Linked DNA regions of Homo sapiens. The protein of the gene in region 2 interacts with the protein of the main gene of each other region in a biochemical or structural test. Each region holds a gene or a part of one and is shown on either strand. Other genes may lie near its edges.

What was found.
Region 1: the proteins of PHLDA1 (region 2) and PABPC4 form a complex in vitro, tested with the Homo sapiens proteins (one study listed by BioGRID).

The regions. Positions count from the first base shown.
Region 1 is NC_000001.11:39,566,768-39,573,791, reverse strand, and holds part of PABPC4 (polyadenylate-binding protein 4), read left to right. Parts: intron 1-588; exon of another isoform or gene 589-711; intron 712-1,113; exon of another isoform or gene 1,114-1,205; coding exon 1,206-1,399; intron 1,400-2,442; coding exon 2,443-2,558; intron 2,559-3,168; exon of another isoform or gene 3,169-3,312; intron 3,313-3,789; coding exon 3,790-3,929; intron 3,930-4,102; coding exon 4,103-4,197; intron 4,198-4,852; coding exon 4,853-4,990; intron 4,991-5,945; coding exon 5,946-6,041; intron 6,042-6,281; exon of another isoform or gene 6,282-6,418; intron 6,419-7,024.
Region 2 is NC_000012.12:76,028,770-76,036,436, reverse strand, and holds the start of PHLDA1 (pleckstrin homology-like domain family A member 1), read left to right. Parts: upstream 1-4,660; 5' UTR 4,661-4,695; coding exon 4,696-5,901; 3' UTR 5,902-5,927; exon of another isoform or gene 5,928-5,943; intron 5,944-6,344; 3' UTR 6,345-7,667. UniProt on the Homo sapiens protein: Seems to be involved in regulation of apoptosis. May be involved in detachment-mediated programmed cell death. May mediate apoptosis during neuronal development. May be involved in regulation of anti-apoptotic effects of IGF1.

The DNA.
Region 1 (7,024 bases), on a different chromosome or scaffold from region 2:
GCTGGAGTGCAATGGCGCGATCTCAGCTCACTGCAACCTCTGACTCCTGGGTCCAAACAATTTTCCTGCCTCAGTCTCCTGAGTAGCTGGGATTACAGGCACCCGCCACCATGCCCAGCTAATTGTGTATTTTTAGTAGAGATGGGGTTTTCACCATGTTGGTCAGGCTGGTCTCGAACTCCTGACCTCAGGTAATCCACCCGCCTTGGCCTCCCAAAGTGCTGGGATTACAGGAGTGAGCCACCATACCCAGCCCAGCCTTTGGTTCTTTAAATTGTCTCTGGTGTACACACGGACTTGGTTGGGAAGCTAAGGAAGCATTCCAAGGTGTTGGATGGGGAAGTTGGTTGAGCACCCAGGGTAGCTGAAGTCCTAGAATTCTACAGAACTTCCATTAAGGCTTCAAAAGGTGGGTGCAGGGCCTGCCATCTGCGCACTGTCTACTTAGGCAGAAGGTATGGTGGTTTTATCCTTGTGATAGTACAGAGAACTTTTCCATGTGTGATCAGTTGTGTCCATTTTGATGACTGATGCTTTTTTGTTTAAGTCAATTTCTGTTCTCAGAAATTGAAAATAAACTGGACTGAATTCTGAATTCAGGGATAGCACCTTTTTTTTTTTTTCCAGATCATTTGCTTTACAGGTTTTGTCACTTGTCTCCATAGGTGGATTGCAGACTAAATGACTTGATAACTTTGATGCAATACCTCACTGAAAAATAAATCAGATAATCTAGTATTAGTTTCGTAATTACTAGCTAGCTGCACAGCTTAGTTACCCTAAACATAAGTTTGTTCATTTTGTAAAATGTATAATTTCAGCTGTCCCACCTGAGTCATGGTGGGTGGTAGTCTGCAAAGTCTCTTCTAAGTGGTAAAGCTTAGTCAAATGTGAGGTATTATCACTGGATCTTGGTGTCATTAAGGCCATTTAGATTATCTTTACTTGTGGCCCCTTTATCCAACAAGGGCACAGACCCAGAAGGGTGTTTAGACTTCTGTCATGAAGTAGAGTCATTAGCTGGAACTTATGCTTCCCTTACTAACAGTGCAGGCTGGAGGAATCTGATGCCCTTTTATTTTAATAGAGTTGCCTTTTATCAAGAGTGATTACCTTGAAAAGTCCTGGAGTAATCTGTTCTTAGGCTGTTGGCCTGTGGGAGCTGACGTTTTCTCTCCTTATTGAAATGTGTTTCTCTCTTACAGCTGAGCGGGCTTTGGACACCATGAACTTTGATGTGATTAAGGGAAAGCCAATCCGCATCATGTGGTCTCAGAGGGATCCCTCTTTGAGAAAATCTGGTGTGGGAAACGTCTTCATCAAGAACCTGGACAAATCTATAGATAACAAGGCACTTTATGATACTTTTTCTGCTTTTGGAAACATACTGTCCTGCAAGGTAAACATTGATTAAATGATTTTAGCAGAATAATTAATTGATTCTTGAAAACAAGATAAATACCAAACAGAGAACTATCTTGGAATTGGGGAACAAGATATGGGAATTTTCAAAATGCTGGACATGGAATCCTAAAAGTTCCCATAGGTAATCTCAGGGCCATACCCAGCGTAACCAGCACACGCTTTCATACCCTTGTTCTTTACTCAGCCTGAAATATCCTTCCTATTCTTTAGCTTTGGAAAGCCCACGTTTTTCTTTTGGGATGGGGGAAAGTAGAGGACCAGAGAAGTGTCTCTAGTCTTGAGGAAACTTAATCACTTTAGAAGCATAAATTCACTCTATTCCTTCTACGTATCTGTTCTATGCTGAGCACTTTAAAACTTAAACGGTGGTGGTGTATATGTTTAATGCCATACTACACTGAAAATCTGTTGTGGCCTTGGAAAATGTTTTGTTTTCTGCATCACCGTGGTTTGCACCCAGATCTCTTAAAATGTGTTGTTGTGTTTTAAAGAGACAGAGTCTTGCTCTGTCTGTCACCCAGGGTGGAGTGCAGTGGTCTAGTAATAGCTCATTGTAGCTTCGACCTCCTGGGCTCAAGCCATCCTCCCACCTCAGCCTCCCAAGTAGCTGGAACTACAGGCACGTGCCACCACACTCATTTAATTTTTTTCTTTTTTGTAGAGACAGGGTCTCCATTGTCCAACGATCTGGCTCCAACGATCCTCCTGCTTTGGCCTCCCAAAGCATTGGGATTACAGGCATGAGCCACAGCACCCAATTTTAAGTATTTTTTGTTTGTTTGTTTTTGATAAAAATAAAACATTTGGAATAGAAGCATCTTAGTAGGGCTACCTTTGTAAATGGAACACTTACTAGGCACCTGGTGCTGTGCTAGGTGTTAGAAAAATTATACTGGTGTACTTGACCACCATTGGCCATGGATGGGCTAGAGTCTCCTCAGGCACAAGATACCCTGAGGTTCTCATGTCTCAGGAGCTGGCCAGTTCTGCTAAAGTGGTCCGCCTTGTCTTTGACAGGTGGTGTGTGATGAGAACGGCTCTAAGGGTTATGCCTTTGTCCACTTCGAGACCCAAGAGGCTGCCGACAAGGCCATCGAGAAGATGAATGGCATGCTCCTCAATGACCGCAAAGTGTGAGTGTCCCAGTCCGGAGCAACAACCATCGCATGAGCCAGCCGTGGCCCCACCTCGCTATTAACTGGCACACACAAGGCGGCTACTGGTTCTCGGCCCAAGTGTGGCCTGCTCCTACCTCTCCACTCCAGGGCTGGTGAGTCTCCCTGCCTGAGCCGTGGCAGCCCTTTTGACTCGCCAAGGTGGGCTTCCTGCCCAAGCCATGGCCTGCCTGCCGCCTCTCCCTTAAAGGCATCTGTCTGTGGGTTTTGTGAGCATCAACAACTGGGGCTGGCTGGAAAGCAGCTCTAAGCTCACTCTGAGTCGGGGTCTTGGCCAGCGGCAGAGTGGAGAGGGCCCTGGACTGACCAGGAGCTGTATACTAGCAGTGTGACCTTGGCTTTCCTGTGATTCAGGTCTGTCCATGGGTCCCTCGCTAGTGGTTGATGCCAAATTGTCCCCGCGGTTCTCCATTTTCTAACTTATGACTCAGTGACCTAATACAAGGCTGGCTCCACAGTAATACTTGGTGACAATGAAAAAATCCCATCCCTTTGCAGAAAAACTTCATAACAGACCTTGTTGCTTTGATGTGGTTGTTACTGTAGAATGCAGAGAGGGGGAACTTACCAAAGCCATATGGGGAGAAGAAGAGACAATAAGTCTTGGCTATTACAAGCCAAAATAATTTTTGTCCTTTGTGTCATTCAGTATGCCAGAGGATGGGTTATCTTTATAATGTCTGTGTGTGCAGTGGTTGATCTACAGATATCACTAAAAAGAAATACAAAAATGTCAGTGCATGGATAAATTTTCTTTTAAGTATAACAGACCAAAATAAATAAATTTAAAAAGCAAAGGGTGCCCCTTCACTCCAACAATCTCATATCTAGGATTAACCACTGTTAACAGTTTGGTTTGTATCCTTCCAGACCTTTTCTATGCATTTACATAGTTGCACAGAAATGAACATTTTAAAAACATGGCCATCAGGTTTCTTCATGAAGGCAGTGTGATGTGGTAGGAATAGCCCTGGTCTAAGCCAGGAGCCCTGGGGCTGGTCCTCACAGGATAGTCCTGCCTTTTTCTCTTTCTGCTGGGGACTTGGGGTATCTCTGAGCCTCCTTGGTGGTGGATGGGGATCTCGTGTTTTAACCTCTCCTGTCAGTCTTTAACCTGTATTCCTTTGGGTCCCTGGACATCATGTTTTATTCCTCTGGGTAATTACTGTTCTTCATGGTTTCATTTTAGATTTGTGGGCAGATTCAAGTCTCGCAAAGAGCGGGAAGCTGAGCTTGGAGCCAAAGCCAAGGAATTCACCAATGTTTATATCAAAAACTTTGGGGAAGAGGTGGATGATGAGAGTCTGAAAGAGCTATTCAGTCAGTTTGGTAAGTTGGGGTTCCTTGTCTCCTTTCACAGTCTACCAGACCCATCTGTTTTTTCTTAAGAGATGAGGGCACTGCTCCAGAGATTTGCTTCAAGTGAGTTTCCAGAGGGAAGCCTTCTGTTCCTGAGCTGTGCTCAAGATGGTGTTACTAATAGTTCTGTCCTTTGGTAATAGGTAAGACCCTAAGTGTCAAGGTGATGAGAGATCCCAATGGGAAATCCAAAGGCTTTGGCTTTGTGAGTTACGAAAAACACGAGGATGCCAATAAGGTGAGTATACCACAAAGATTGGGAAAAGCTTTTAAGAGGTTGCCCCAGAGTATGGGTAGGGTCTTGCTAGCACCTACCTAGAGCTGGGACGGTCTGAGTATCTGGTAGTAGATGTACCATTACTATACTCTGGGATCATCTTCCTGGGTTCCGCATGTTAACTTCATGTAGGTGTTTACAAAGCACTTGGCACATACCTGTCACCTCAGCTATCAGTTGTTGAAAGAATAGGACAGACGTTTGTTATGCTGCAAAGGTGAGAGAACTAAAGCCCAGTGAGTGCTGATTTGATAACAGCACGGCAGCTACTTGTGGGCAAAGCATTGTGCCAGACCCTCAATATTTATCACTTAAATACCCACAAAAGCACCTGCAGAATTTACTGGCAGCCGGAATATTATATCGCCCTAGGCTCATGTCAGCACACTTGTGTTTATACACCTGTACTATTTCTATATTATCTGGATCAATAACCCATTTAAATATTAACCTCACTTTACAGATGAGGAAGTTTGGATTTGTGTGACAGACTTCAGAGGTGGAGTGAATTTAGTTTTTAGTCCTATAGTAGAAAGAATATTTTTTGGGACTTAGACCTCCAGAATAAGACCCCATCGCTGCAACTTTATTTTAAAGACATATTTTTCCTCTCTAGGCTGTGGAAGAGATGAATGGAAAAGAAATAAGTGGTAAAATCATATTTGTAGGCCGTGCACAAAAGAAAGTAGAACGGCAGGCAGAGTTAAAACGGAAATTTGAACAGTTGAAACAGGAGAGAATTAGTCGATATCAGGTAAGGTGGTCTTGGCCCAGCCTAGCAATGGGATTTGCTGTGAAATATTTGCAGAACACCCCTATGTTTAGCGGGCTTTCTTTTTGAGGACTTGGAGTGTGTTCTTCTTCCCATTTTACCTAAAAAGATGAGGTTTAAAAGGATATATACCTACTACATATGACTGATTATTATAGAACCAGAAACAAGAGATGGGTTTATTCATCAAGAAGCTCTCTATTTTGGAAGCCTCAGCCTGTTGCTTTTAGCCATGTAGGTTCCTTTTACTTAAATGAGACTCCTTTGTTTGGCATGGCTTCAAGAAGACCCCTGCTGGGGTGGGTGAGTGGTCACCAGAACAGCTGTGGGGAGAGGTGACAAAAGGTGAGTGCACTGATGATCCTGTCAGTTTCAGGGCAGTAGTTTCACAACTTTGGACTTGCATCAGATTCATCAGCAGAGCTTGTTAAAACAGATAGCTGGGCTCCAGCCCCAGAGTTTTTCTTATTCATTGGGTTTGGGGTCTGGCCTAAGAATTTCATTTCTTTCTTTTTTTTTTTTTTTTCTTGAGACAGTCTCGCTCTGTCGCCCAGGTTGGAGTGCAGTGGCACAATCTCGGCTCACTGCAAACTCCGCCTCCCGGGTTCGCACCATTCTCCTGCCTTAGCCTCCTGAGTAGCTGGGACTACAGGCACCCGCCACCATGCCTGGCTAATTTTTTGTATTTTTAGTAGAGACGGGGTTTCACTGTGTTAGCCAGGATGGTCTCGATCTCCTGACCTTGTGATTCGCCCGCCTCGGCCTCCCAAAGTGCTGGGATTACAGGCGTGAGCCACCGCGTCCGGCCGAGAATTTCATTTCTAACAAGTTCCCAAAGATGCTGGTGCTCCTGGTCTGGGGCCACCCTTGGGGAACCACTTTCTTAGGGAATATTTGTGATATAGAAGTGTAGTTAACAGTGATCTTTTTCCTTCAGGGGGTGAATCTCTACATTAAGAACTTGGATGACACTATTGATGATGAGAAATTAAGGAAAGAATTTTCTCCTTTTGGATCAATTACCAGTGCTAAGGTATTATACTGCGATCTGGGGATTGAAAGCAGTGGTATTCCATTATAGGCTTATTGGCATTTGTCCCATTGAAGGAATAGCATTTAAATTATGTTCATTTCTGAAAGTAGCTACTACGTTTTTCTAGCAAAATTTCTGGATGCATTCTGGAGAATGACATTTCATTAGGTTAACATTACACTGTTTCCCAAGCACTGGAGTCTGGAGAGGAATTTGACCCAGCCCCTCCTTGCCAACTCAGAGCACCTGAATCTTTCCCATTCCTTGCTGCCTCGTGCCGGTGTGGGGACAGATGGTGCTACAGAATGAGCAGAGGAAATCCAGACAGGTTGTTTTCCATTTGTCTTGGGGCCTGTCTCTACAGCTCTGCCACATTTTCTCCTTGAGAATGAAGGTATTTTGAAGATTTTGGAGGTGGGCTTGGGAACTTCTACCCTGGTCTTAAAAAGAGAGGAAAGGGGAGTGGAAGGTTTTTCTATGTTTCGTAGTGTGCATCATTTGCTTGATTTTCTTTGATAATCATATCAACTAAGTTAGCAGGGTAAGTAGGAACCTCATTTTAAAGATAAGGAATTTTAGTCCTTGAACAAGAGAATGCTGACTACATGGGGATGGTGTACTGCTTGTCCTTGGCACTTTGGGAGCAGGATGGAAACTGGTGCCATCTGAACATTTTGAGTTATGGCCGGATGCAGACGCCGGTCTTGCTAAACAGGTGTACCAGATGCCACAAAATCCTTTAGTTGATGAGAAGGGAAGCCACGTGGGCTGGTAAGGGCTTAGTGGCCCTGCCCTGGCTCTTAGTGGACTTTGCTCCCAACCTGGGAATGTGGAAAGCAATGTTATCAGTTGTAGTAGGGAGTTGGCCAGAGGCCAACTGTGGGTTTGCCCAGTTCTTACCCTTTCGTTTTTGCTATGACCCCCCCCTTGACTGGCCCTCATCAGTGTAAGGAGTGATCTTCTATCCTTGCTTATCTGCCTAG
Region 2 (7,667 bases):
TACTAGTTTATATAAACACCTCTCATGATATTAAATTGCATGTTGCTTGGGAAAAGGTTTGTGGGATTTATTTTAGATGTCTGACTATAAAAGCATTTAAGATTCAGAGAGGCCTAGCATGTAGTTATCCATTTAAAAAGTATACCAGAGATATGTTTGTAGGGCAAATTTCAAGTCCTTACATCTCAAGTTTTAAAAAGTAGGATGCATCATGAAAAATCTGTCAAAAGCATTTGAAAAAATTGATATTCTTTTTATGATGGGTATGGACTTCTAATTCAATTCAAGATTTCTACCTATGTTGAGCATCTACTTGGTATCAAGACTTTTTCTAGGTGATTGGGACACATCAGAAACAATGGTCCTTGCCCTCTTGAATAGCTTGCATACTATTCTAGTGGGAAGGGGAACAGAAATAAGCAATAGGTACAATAAATTATTGAGTAGCATGTTAGAAGATAATATATGCTATGGGAAAAATTAAGGGGAATTGAGTGGCTACCATTTGAGAGTGATCAGGATAGGCCTGTTGAGCCAAGACTTGAAGAAAGTGATGGAGATAACTTTGGGTGCTATGCTGAAAATAGATAACAAGGATAGAATCAGGGAGACAAGTTAGGAGGCCATCATAGTAATCCAGTGGGGGGATATGATGGTGATTTGGATCAGGGTGGTAATGAAGGAAGTGGACAGAATCCAGATGTAGTTGAAGGCCTAACCAGTAGGATTTCCTGACTAAATGTGTAGATTAAATATTGGGAGAGAAAAAAATTACTACAAGGCAGGCATGATTCTACACACTTGAAGGCCTGGGGCAAGAGTACAATGGAGATACCGTATGTTTAAATATTTAAAAGTACTGTTTAATGAAAATATGCCCAATGTGCCTGTCTTGACAAACTTTCATTAGAACTGGGAAGCCAGGTTTGTATTTATGCCAGAATATAACTTGCGGGCAGAGCTGACCCTCAGCCCATGAGCCACCTTCCTTTTCTTCCCACCCCGGCTCTGAACTGTATGGCAAGGGGCCTCCTGCACATTTACTTGGATGCCATAACCAGTATATTCGAACTGCCCTATCCCCCTAACACATCAGTGCATGCAATGATGATGTAATGCATTTCCTGGAACAGCTGGGGCTATTCTGGGCAGGGTATTTGGGGTCTTGAGTACCTAGAGTGTAGTGCAGAATGAGTATGCTCTCTAGATTGACATGTCATCTTGACTCTAAAGCACTCAATCCTAAAGCTCAGGGCCTTGGATAAGGGCCTTTCCTGGCCTGGTGTAAGGGCAGTACTGATCTACGGTTTTTAGTTTGAGCATCTGTACAGAGGATTGCTGTCAACTGAGAAAGGGGGCTGCAGGTAGAGTAGGTTAGAGTGAGGAAAATAGTTTGGGAGCTCATTCACATGTTTGATTTCTTAGACTACACAAGCCGTACTGTAGAGAAGTGTAAATGGAGAATTTTCAACTTATAGTAGCACTCACTGGCCTGGAATTGATAAAAACTGAAGGCTGTTTTTCACTATAGTTAATTCTAACCTATAAACTGGAGCAGTTCCATGTAGGAATTTGTTAAAACCTATTGTGTATGAATTACAGACTCCTCTGACCATCCGAGTGTTCTTTTTCAGTTTTTTTTTTTTTTTCCTATGACCTAAAATCCCCTCAGACTTAAACCTTTAGTGAACTACTCAGTAAATGGCTTTACTAGTAAGTGTTCCCTTGCCTGGTATGTTTATTATTTTTTAACTTCAGTGTTTTATTCTTCGGCAGTAAGCAGTTGGATATAAGTTGGGGGTATAAATTTGGGACTCTGGCATATAGATGTTATTAAAAGTGATGAGACTGGATATCAACAAGGGAATGAGTGTAGATAAAGAAGAGAGCCAAAGACAAAGACTTGGGGCATTCCAACATTAAAAGTTTGGAGAGAAGAGAAAGCACCTCATAGAGGAGACACTGGAGATGTAAAGGAAAACTGAGTGATGTCCTTGAAGCCAAGTGATAAACTTTATCCAAGAGAAGAAAATGAACTGTCCAGTGCTGCTGATAGATAACTTTATATTGCCAGCTGTAAAATGTACTTTCAATTAGCCATTTCAAATTTGTTTACCAAAGCAATGATTTTGTTGGCTAGTTTTCTAAACTTCAGTAACTTTTCAGTGACTTGTAGGTTTTCATTGCATATACAGCTGAATTTTTTTTTTTTTTTAAACAGGGTCTTGCTGCCACCCAGGCTTGTATAGTGGTGCGATCCTAGCTCCTGCAACCTTGAACTTCTGGGCTCAAACAGTCCTCCACCTCAGCCTCCCAAGTAGCTGGGGCTACATGGCGCATGCCACCACACCTGGCTAATTTTTTTTTTACATTTGTAGAGGGAGGCCTTGCCATGTAGCCCAGGTTGGTTTCAAACTCCTGGGCTCAAGGGATCCTCTCACCTCAGCCTCCTAGAGTGTTGGTATTACAGGTGTGAACCACCATGCCTGGCCCAAAAGTTGTTTTTTTTTTTTTTAAGTTATTTTCTGTAATGCATTTTCTGTGAATTTATTGTCTTAAAAATTGGCAAATATGGCCATTTTGACATATTTGCCAAATATGAGCATATGGCAACTATGCTCTTAATTTGTTAAGTCACCAACTGTTGGTGGTAACTGTTGAAATAACAAGAGCAAAGTTATCACCAATCTACGGGATCCTTACACTACTGATATTTTCAATAATGCACCGTAGTCAGACATTGTAGACTTAACCTCTGAGCTGCTCACAAAATTACTAAATCATTCTGAAATACGTAACTGCAAATTCTGGGCTTTAAAGTCTCTAGTTAAATGGGTGATTTTGAAAATTGGTGGCTGTTCAGACATTTTCAAATGAGAATAGAATGCATTTGTTTCAGACTGATAAACTGCAGAAGGTTAGATAACACCAAACACATTTGAGTTTCTCCTAAGAAAATGACTTGGGCCTCCAGATTACATCTCATTTTTTTTTTTTTTACCCTATCAAGTTTGTTTTTCCATATGAAATGTCTTTCCCAACTACACCTGCCCTTGGAGACTGTGAATAACAGACTTAAAGGAAGTATCCTTTCCAGATGAGCTGAAGAATGTCATCCTCTTAAAAGAATGAACAGCTGGTCATGTAGAAATTCTCTGGAATGCTCACTTGTCCTACAAAGGCAGGGGAGCAGAAAACATGTAGTTTTTTTGTTATTGGTATACATAATTGTAAATCTTCGAGATAATTTTACTAGAAGTCCACATAATTTTAATAATTGCCTTTCTCCTGAAAAGATTGCTAATAAATTAACAATGTGAAGGCTAGAAAGCTGGCCAAGCATAATCCGGTGGGACTCAGGATTGCTGGCTGGATTGTCCCGTTTGATCAGACATTGTTTCTTAGATGAATATTCAGGACGCCCTCGTGTATAAAAGTTGTCCTTTGTTCTGACTACCTTGGTATTAAGTTCGAATTTCTTACCATGACACACAAAGGATTCGATTCTTGCTTAGCTCTCTAAGCTCCTCTCACTTTCTCTTCCCCTCTTGAATTCTTTGCTCTTGCCACACAACTAGCAGATGAACTAATCTATCTGTTCCAACGTGGGCACAGTAGCAGCCGTAACTCTTACCTTGGCCCACTCTGACTTGTCCAGCCCTGGTTGAATTCTTCGTATCCCCGTGAGGGTCCGCACGTAGTTGGGGCTGTTTACTAAACGGATGAACTTCCCTACCGGGAGGCTAGGTCTCGGTTATGCCTTACTTCCCAGGAAGCGGCTTCTATAGGCATTGTTTAAATGTAGGAGTAGGAGGGAGCTGGGGGTATTGCATTCCCCAGGTCACAGATAAATGAGATTCCAAAACCAAGATCTGGCTAGGCCTTGGAAAGAGGGACCTGCGAGGCCGACCAGACGTTTGGAACTGCGCCTTGCAGTGTGGGATCTCAGCACCGGATATTACCCCGGTTTGTAGAGAGTTGAGTTACTGTTTTAAGAGACGTTGCAAACCGTACGGGTCAAGAAGAAAGCCGAAGACGGGTTAGCGCCTGCGGTCGGGGTCGAGAAAAGCAGGCGAGATGCGACCTGACGTGGGTCCGCCTCTCTCCACCCGTGGCAAGCCCGACAGTCGCACTATTGCTTTAACAATCGCCCTCTTTCCAAGAAGAGCTACTTAGTGACCGTGAGCGAATATGCGTGGGAAGACACGATGTCCTCTCGGCCTCTGTGCGCTCAGTTGTTTACCTAGGCGTCCGGGGGAGGCACACTCGCGGGACTCGCGGGACTCGGCCCCGGCCTCCCAGCTCGCCCAGGACACGACGCTGGTTCTGCGGGCTCTCGGAGCCCAGCGCGAATCCCCCGGGCTAATTCCCAAGAACCGAGAGGCAGCACTGCCTGGAGGCTGCCCCCGCCTCCGCGCCCCCGTCCTCACTTTCTGAGGCTGTTAGCAGAGAGTCCCGCGGGCCGGGGAGAAGCGGGACGCGGGGGATGGCCTCGCAGCGCCCTGTGAGCGTCGGCAGTAGTCAGGCAGCCAGGGCTCCTTGGGCGATCGCCCTGGGTAGAGGAGAGGAGTTTCCGGGGCTCGGGTCCGGGTCGCCTTCCAGGGGAACGAGCGCGGAAGCAAGTGGGCGGCGAGAGGCGGAGCAAGAGACGCTGGAGGGCGTGGACGCAGCGGGCTTTGGAAAGGCCCCAAGTTAATGAGGCGTGCGCCGGCTGCCGAGCGCCTCTTGGAGCTGGGCTTTCCCCCGCGGTGCGGGCGCCAGGAGCCGCCTTTTCCGCTGGGTGTCACTCGGGGGTGGGGAAGATGGCCCATTCAAAAGCGCCGCGAGGGGGCCCGGCCAGTGCCCTTCAGTGAGCGCTCGCAAGAGGACGGCAGAGGCCCGGCAGCTCGGAGCTCCGGGACCTTGTGGCGCATCAGGACGCGGCTGTCCCTCTGCCGGGACCCAGAGCCGCCGCCGCCGCTCTGCCTCCTGCGTGTTAGCCTCCTCTGCGCGCTCCGGGCAGGCGGCCGTGGGAGCCGCTGGGGCGAGGACGGCGCGAGGCTGCTGCTGCTGCCCCCGGCCCGCGCGGCTGGAAACGGAGAGGCCGAGCCAAGCGGCGGCCCCTCTTATGCTGGGAGGATGCTGGAGAGTAGCGGCTGCAAAGCGCTGAAGGAGGGCGTGCTGGAGAAGCGCAGCGACGGGTTGTTGCAGCTCTGGAAGAAAAAGTGTTGCATCCTCACCGAGGAAGGGCTGCTGCTTATCCCGCCCAAGCAGCTGCAACACCAGCAGCAGCAGCAGCAACAGCAGCAGCAGCAGCAGCAACAACAGCCCGGGCAGGGGCCGGCCGAGCCGTCCCAACCCAGTGGCCCCGCTGTCGCCAGCCTCGAGCCGCCGGTCAAGCTCAAGGAACTGCACTTCTCCAACATGAAGACCGTGGACTGTGTGGAGCGCAAGGGCAAGTACATGTACTTCACTGTGGTGATGGCAGAGGGCAAGGAGATCGACTTTCGGTGCCCGCAAGACCAGGGCTGGAACGCCGAGATCACGCTGCAGATGGTGCAGTACAAGAATCGTCAGGCCATCCTGGCGGTCAAATCCACGCGGCAGAAGCAGCAGCACCTGGTCCAGCAGCAGCCCCCCTCGCAGCCGCAGCCGCAGCCGCAGCTCCAGCCCCAACCCCAGCCTCAGCCTCAGCCGCAACCCCAGCCCCAATCACAACCCCAGCCTCAGCCCCAACCCAAGCCTCAGCCCCAGCAGCTCCACCCGTATCCGCATCCACATCCACATCCACACTCTCATCCTCACTCGCACCCACACCCTCACCCGCACCCGCATCCGCACCAAATACCGCACCCACACCCACAGCCGCACTCGCAGCCGCACGGGCACCGGCTTCTCCGCAGCACCTCCAACTCTGCCTGAAAGGGGCAGCTCCCGGGCAAGACAAGGTAAGGTCCCGGCACTCGCGCTCCCGAGGAGTGGGTCTCGGGGGTAGTGAGTTGGGAGGAGTAGGAAGCTTGTTCACAGGTTCGGCTCCTGTATGGAGAAATCAAAACTCATACCAAGTTTCTGGGGCAATGGAAGAAACAGAAACAAGCTGGGGCCAGGAGAGCTGGGCAGAGAGGGGAGGCTGGGGAGATCCGGGCCAGGCAGGGGGCCTCGCGGACCGCGCCCGCGCCCGCGCCCATCACGACCGTCCTTGTCCCGTGGTGCGTCCCCCAGCCCCACTTGACTATATGTTTGGGCAGTTGAGGGAAACACCACGGTGTCTTTCTGAGCCCGCTTTGTCAGGCGGACTGGCCCGAACAGAACTGGTCTCGGAGGGTTCTTAGCCACCTACTTCACTCGGTGTCATTTCTTTCCAGGTTTTGAGGACTTGAGGAAGTGGGACGAGCACATTTCTATTGTCTTCACTTGGATCAAAAGCAAAACAGTCTCTCCGCCCCGCACCAGATCAAGTAGTTTGGACATCACCCTACTGAAAACTTGCGATTCTTCTTAGTTTTCTGCATACTTTTCATCACGATGCAGGAAACGATTTCGAGTCAAGAAGACTTTTATTTATGAACCTTTGAAAGGATCGTCTTGTATGGTGAATTTTCTAGGAGCGATGATGTACTGTAATTTTATTTTAATGTATTTTGATTTATGATTATTTATTAGTTTTTTTTTAAATGCTTGTTCTAAGACATTTCTGAATGTAGACCATTTTCCAAAAAGGAAACTTTATTTTCAAAAACCTAATCCGTAGTAATTCCTAATCTTGGAGAATAAAAAAGGGCGGTGGAGGGGAAAACATTAAGAATTTATTCATTATTTCTCGAGTACTTTCAGAAAGTCTGACACTTTCATTGTTGTGCCAGCTGGTTGAAATTAAAACTCTGATATTACTTTTTTTGAGGATTTTTATTTTTGTTTTTGCTTAAACATATAGTTTGTCTAGAAGTTTAAAAAGCTAAAAGTTAAAAATGGTGTAATTATGAAAATCTAACACTCAAGATAGTTTCTAAAAGGAAATCAGTAGTTAAGGATACCTGATTTCAAAATATTTAAAGCATAACCTAACTGATGGTAGGATGATTGTATCTTGAATATGTGGTAGGGCCACATCTATTGTAGGAAAACCTTGCTTTTATCATCTGTGTGTAAAGGGCTTAATAAGGAGAAGAGGCCTTTTGACTGATTTGTGAGTATAAATGCATTTGCTGTTTCATTTCAAAAATGTTGTGGAGGAAAAGAGTACATTTAACTTGTATAAGAGAATATTTGTACTCCTGTCCAGGCTGCAGGACCTTTCTTCGAGAGCTTTGCACACTTGACTTGAACCACATTTTCTGATCCCTTTACTTTGTTTTAGAAGCACACTGAAAAATCTCGTTGTTTAAAGTACAATTTGTAAATATTTCAAAGGTCTAGGAGTCATAACTTTTGTTTTCATACTGAAAATGATGTTGATCAGAGAAACCAACTGTTTTGCTTTTCATTGCTCTGTGAGAAATTTGAGGATTCTGTTTTGCTGTTAGGTAAGCTAAACTCAGAAATTGAAAAGGAAAAGACTGGATAAACACAGGATTTTCAGTAAGAAAACAACCCCAGTCTTGTCTTAGAAGCCACTTGTTGAGGAGTCTGTTGGGGGAAAAAAGAGGATATGCTTTTAAAGGTAGAACAAACCTTCTTCTGTGTTAAAT